2 separate regions of the Homo sapiens genome follow, and region 1 is linked to region 2. Evidence: fine-mapped expression QTL. A gene starts in region 2. The other region holds a variant in brackets. All regions are shown on one strand. Distances are from middle to middle. Region 1 has its middle 35 kb from the start of MIR98. Region 2 holds the start of RIBC1 (RIB43A domain with coiled-coils 1).

Region 1 (2,909 bases), 98 kb before region 2:
TTTTCCAGCTTCCCAAGTAGCTGGGAATACTGGTGTGCACCACCACACCCAGCTTCTGTGCATGTTTTGTTTTGGGTTTTTTTTTTTTTTTTGAGACAGGGTCTTGCTCTGTCACCCAGGCTGGAGTGCAGTGGTTTGATCACCACTCTCTGCAGCCTTGACCTCCCAGGCTCAAGTGATCCTCTCACCTCAGCCTCCTGAATAGCTGGGACTACAGGCATGCACAACTACGCCCAGCTAATTTTTTATTTTTTGTAGAGACAGAGTCTCGCTACATTGTCCAGGCTGGTCTCAAACTCCTGGGCTCAAGCAATCCTCTACCTCAACCTCCCAAAGTACTGGGATTACAGGCATGAACCACTGCACCTGGCCCATAAGTTGTGATAAATTTTAACATTTTATGGTAGATTTGTGTATATTTGATGGTAGTATATGATAAAACAGACTAGCATCTACATGTATTTTATGCATTCATGACACACCTTTTTCTTAATGTCTTCAATATTTCTAGGCTATGTGGTTTTGTTACAGTAGGGTAGGGTAGCTAGTCAGACATGAGCAGGGCAGGAGAGGGCCCTGCCCCCTCCCCCCTAACCAGGAATGTCGGGTGACCATCAGGTGATGGTCAAGTGGTTGTTAACTATCTCTCTAAAATAATAATTGGTTGCAGCCAGTGCCAGGGAAAGGCAGTCTCCTGATAGATAGAAAAACCTGAAACTGGTGATCAACAGCTTCCCAATATCTCAGGAGTTTGACAAGTGGACTCACGCATGCACAGTAAGATGTATATGACTTTCTAGGGACATTTGGTAAGGGAAGAATGCCTCAAGTGAGCACGCGTACAACTCCAGTAAACACACTGTGCATGCTCCTCTCCCAAGCGCCGGCAGGCTGCTATGCATGCTCACGCCCACTCCCAGGGAAGAATCAGGGGAGAGGGAATGCAAGATCCCAGAAGCGTGCCAATGTATAAAACCCCAAGTCAAAGGTCAAACTATGCACACTTGATCTCTCAAGTTGCCCGCTACATCCTCTTCCAAATGTACTTTACTTCTTTTGATTCCTGCTCTAAAGCTTTTTAATAAACTTTCAGTCCTGCTCTAAAACTTTCCTCAGTCTCTCACTCTGCCTTGTACCCCTCAGTCAAATTCTTTCTTCAAGGAGGCAAGAATTGAGGTTGCTGTTATAAATAAAGTTTCAGTGCTGCAAAAGAAACAGCACTTGAATATAAAATATTCTTTTTAATTCTCAGCAAG[G/T]CAATGTACTTCTATAGAAGGGTGCACCCTTACAGATGGAGCAATGGTGAGCACACACTTGGACAAGGGAGGGGAAGGGGTTCTTATCCCTGACGCATGTGGCCCCTGCTGCTGTGTCTTTTCCCTATTGGCTAGGGTTAGACCACACAGGCTAAACTAATACAATTGGCTAATTTAAAGAGAGTAATGGGGTGAGTGGTTTGGCAGGAAAAATGGTTATGGCAGAGCAGGAAATCGGAATGAGTCAGGGTGGAGAATGAGCAGGTAATCGGAATGAGTCAGGGTGGAGCAGGTAATCAAAAAAGGTTGCTTTACAAGGAAGTTAAGTTTAAAAGTACAAGGCAAAGAATTGAACATACTGACATATTGATTCTTTGAAGAGAAATTTAGAATTCATATCTAACATTGCCACAGACACATATGGATTTGCTGCCACTAACAGTTTTTTGTTTGTTTGGTTTTTTGAGACAGAGTCTTGCTCTGTTGCCCAGGCTGCAGTGCAGTGACACGATCTTGGCTCACTGCAAGCTCCTCCTCCCGGGTTCATGCCATTCTCCTGCCTCAACCTCCCAAGTAGCTGGTGTAGCAGGACAAGCCACAGACAAAACCCCTCAGACACCGAGTTAAAGAAGGAAGGGCTTTATTCGGCCGGGAGCTTTGGCAAGACTCAAGTCTCCAACAACCGAGCTCCTCAGGTGAGCAATTCCTGTCCCTCTTAAGGGCTTACAACTCTAAGGGGGTCCGCGTGAGAGGGTGGTGATCAATTGAGCAAGCAGGGGGTATGTGACTGGAGGCTGCATGCCATCAGTAATTAGAACGGAACAGAACAGGACAGAGATTTTCACAGTGCTTTTCCATACAATGTCTGGAATCTATAGATAACATAACTGGTTAGGTCAGGAGTCGATCTTTAAGCAGGCCCAGGGTGCAGCGCTGGGCTGTCTGCCTGTGGATTTCATTTCTGGCTTTTAGTTTTTACTTCTTCTGTCTTTGGAGGCAGAAATTGGTCATAAAACAATATAAGGGGTGGTCTCCTCCCTTATTCCCCCACTTTGAGAACTTCACTCATTAGTGGGAGTTCTCACTTTCATTGTCACTACCCATGTCTTCTTGCAAGACAGATCAATAGTGATTCATATAGTACACTTGTGCTGAAGCATTTTGGTGAACTAAGGCAGCAATGAAGCTTTTTATTGTTTGAAGAAGTACAGGTAGCAAACAAGGGAGCAGTAAGCAGGTTTCTATTACTATTATAACTCCTATTATAAGAGTTTTAAATCTTTCTAGTGCTGGGAACCATTTTCCAAACATGGCCCCAGGATCAAATCCATGCCACACTTGCACAGGCACATGTGCCAGTTTTGTCATATTTCTAACTATGTCTTTAACTACTTGCCCTTGATCATCTAGGTGTAGACAGCAATTAGTAAGATTAAATTTTCTACAGACCTCTCCTTCAGCTGCTAGCAAGTAGTCCAAGAGCCAATCTATTTTGATAGATAGCATTTCTCATCTGAGTTTCTTGCCAGGCTAGAATAGTCAAGGCTCTGCCGGTCTTATTAGTGATTATTTCTTTTTTTTTTTTTTTTTTTTTTGAGATGGAGTCTTGCTCTGTCGCCCAGGCTAGAGTGCAGTGGCACAATCTCGGCTCAC
Region 2 (2,909 bases):
AATTTGTTTTAGATGGGGTCTCTCTCTGTTGCCCAGGATGGAGTGTAGTGGTGCAATCATGGCTCACTGCAGCCTCAAACTCCTGGGCTCAAAGGATCTTCCTGCCCCAGCCTCCTGAGTAGCTGGGACTACAGGTGTGTGCCACCATGCCTGCCTAATTTTTAAAATTTTTTTGTAGAGATTGGGTTTTGCTATGTTACCCAGGCTCACCATCTCATCTTTTAAAAGGGAACAGTATTTCCCCATGGATTACATGAGATTGCTGTCTTTTAGCCATTTTATCCCCTCAGCCTGATTGTTTCTCCCAGCTGAACTTCATTTATGGCTCCCCTACTAGATTCCATCTACCAAGCTTCCTCCCTTTATTTATTTTTGAGACAGGGTATTGCTCTGTCACCTAGGCTGGAGTGAAGTGGTGCGGACACCACTCACTACAGCCTCAACCTCCCAGGCTCAAGTGATCCTCCTGCTTCGGCATCCTGGGTAGACCAGAGGTGAGAGCTGCCACACCCAGCTAATTTTTTAATTTTTAGTAGAGATAGGGTCTCACTATGTTGCCCAGGCTGGTCTTGAACTGCTGGTCTCAAGTGATCCTCCTGCCTTGGCCTGCCTCCCTCACGATGGGATTACAGTTGTCAGCCACCATGCCCAGCCACTTCCTCACTTTCCTGGACTTGTCCTAAGTCTTTAGGACTCTTTCTAGCCTTCGGACATAATTTAATAAATAGTTAAAGGAATAATTATGGCAACCACCAGATCCTTTCCATGTTTAAGTCTGAGAATGGCACCAACTTACCTACTGGTTTCACCTGCCATTACAGTATAAGGTCACTGAAGGGGAAGATTCAGCTGACATTTTAAGCTTCTTGGATTGCTAAGGCCCCTGCCTTATTAATGATAGAGAGCAGAGAGGGAAGAGAGGTAAGGTGGCATTGTGGTATAGAGCTGTGGGAATGGGATGGGGGAGAGGCATGGAGGCAGAGGTAGGTGGAGGTGGAGAGCGCTGGCTTAGGGACCCTGACTCCTGGGGGTTCACACAAAATACCTTTCTCAGTAAGGAATCCCGATTTTGAAGCTCTTAGGTTGGCTCTGCATGCAACTTTGTTCTTGGGTTACGGCGGCAGTTTCTGAACTCTGCTTGGTACAACAGGAGGGAGGCAGGGGATAGGGGTAGTATCTCAGGCCGTAGCCTTCCCCAGCCTGTATCCCTGTTGCCTGGGAGTAGCCCCAGTCCCATTCACAACCCGTCCGCCTTCGCAACCCGTCCCGCCACCAATCCCACCCCACCATTAGCAAAGTCTGAGCTCACCTAACACTGAATCCTCCCGTTGGCCCCTCCTTCCCGTCCAGCTCTCCGCTCCCCCCGGGTCCTTCCAATTCCCGACCCTGTCCTTGTCCTAGCCTTGAAAGCTGGCCAGGCTAAAGCCACAGCCGAGCTCCCACCTTCCTCTTGCCCTGAGGGGCATAATCCTGCTGTGACTTCTGTCTCAGCAAGCGTGAGCTCAGGTCTCCCCCGCCTCCTTGAACCTCAAGAACTGCTCTGACTCCGCCCAGCAACAACTCCTCCGGGGATCTGGTCCGCAGGAGCAAGTGTTTGTTGTTGCCATGCAACAAGAAAGGGGGGCGGAGGCACCACGCCAGTCGTCAGCTCGCTCCTCGTATACGCAACATCAGTCCCCGCCCCTGGTCCCACTCCTGCCGGAAGGCGAAAATCCCGTTAGGCCTGGACGTATTCTCGCGACATTTGCCGGTCGCCCGGCTTGCACTGCGGCGTTTCCCGCGCGGGCTACCTCAGTTCTCGGGCGTACGGCGCGGCCTGTCCTACTGCCGCCGGCGCCGCGGCCGTCATGGGGTTCCTGAAACTGATTGAGATTGAGAACTTTAAGTCGTACAAGGGTCGACAGATTATCGGACCATTTCAGAGGTTCACCGCCATCATTGGACCCAATGGCTCTGGTGAGATAAACCTGGCCGCGGCCCTGCGCACGTCCCGGCCTGGACCCCTTATCCGGTGCCGGAGTAGTACAACCCAGCCCATGTAACCTGAAACGTCGCGGACCCTTACGGGTTCCTTGCCCGTCCAGAGGGGGTTCTGCTCGAACCCACTCTCCCCGCGCGGGTGCTCTAACTCGAACCCCTTCCAGGTGTCACTTGCCGCTTCCTGCGCGGCCCCCGCCCCGGCCCAGTGGTACAGGCCGAGCTGCCAGTTACCCCGCCTACTTCCCCCTCCCGCCAAAGGAGTCGCGTCTGGAACCAGCTTCCCGCCAGCTCAGTCCTCCGCCGCGCGGCTCCCCGCCGGACCGGCCGGAGCCGGCTTCCCAGCCTTACTTGACCCCCTCCGGAGAATGTGGGGACGCTGGTAGCTCTCCCGTGGCCTTCGGTCCCAAACGGTGCACTTCTGTTTCAGCCCAGCGTCCTCTCTCGCCTCGCATTGGTACACTCCAACTCCTTTCTACTCTTCTCTGGAGGCGGCACTTTTGAATTTCAGACCCAGCGCTCCAGTCTTTAGAATGCTTGAGGTGTCGATCCCCACCCCCCACCGCTATGTCAGAGGTAGTTGCCTCGAACTCGCCCTTTTCCTACCACCGAAACCGTCAAAAGCCGAAATTAACTAATTTACCAAATTTGTTGAATGCTTATTGTTTATCAGGAGTTATTCAGTTGCAAGTTGTGGAAACAGCGGAGAATAGAATAAACCAACTCCATGCTCACAGGGAACTTATATTCCAGAGGGGAAAGAAGATAAGGAGAAAATAAGATGGTTTTAGGCTGTCATAAGTGCTATACAGGAAATGAGACAGGTGGATGTGATAAAGTGACTTAGGTGGTGTCTTTAGAAAGGGTGGTCAGGTAAAGCCTCTATTTTGTGTCTTCCCAACTCTAAACGATACACCGTGGATTCCTCTCAC

What was found. PIP is the estimated chance that this variant, and not a neighbour inherited with it, causes the effect. A credible set is the group of variants that fine-mapping cannot tell apart.
Region 1: its variant is the best candidate, but not a certain one, in a credible set for the expression of RIBC1 in whole blood (TOPMed, PIP 0.83).

Annotation. Positions count from the first base shown.
Region 1 is chrX:53,519,705-53,522,613 of GRCh38, reverse strand. No RefSeq gene overlaps it. Among named protein-coding and RNA genes, the nearest start is that of MIR98, 35 kb to the left of the region's middle. The variant G/T (reference allele first, on the strand shown) is at 1,257.
Region 2 is chrX:53,421,539-53,424,447 of GRCh38, reverse strand. It overlaps RIBC1 (RIB43A domain with coiled-coils 1), which reads right to left and starts at 1,575. Exons shown (of 8, transcript NM_001031745.5): 1 at 1,444-1,575; 2 at 1,046-1,134. It overlaps SMC1A (structural maintenance of chromosomes 1A), which reads left to right and starts at 1,794. Exons shown (of 25, transcript NM_006306.4): 1 at 1,794-1,956. The coding sequence starts at 1,848. RefSeq lists enhancers at 1,487-1,536, 691-1,662, 1,827-2,006, 2,197-2,246, 2,367-2,546 and 1 more.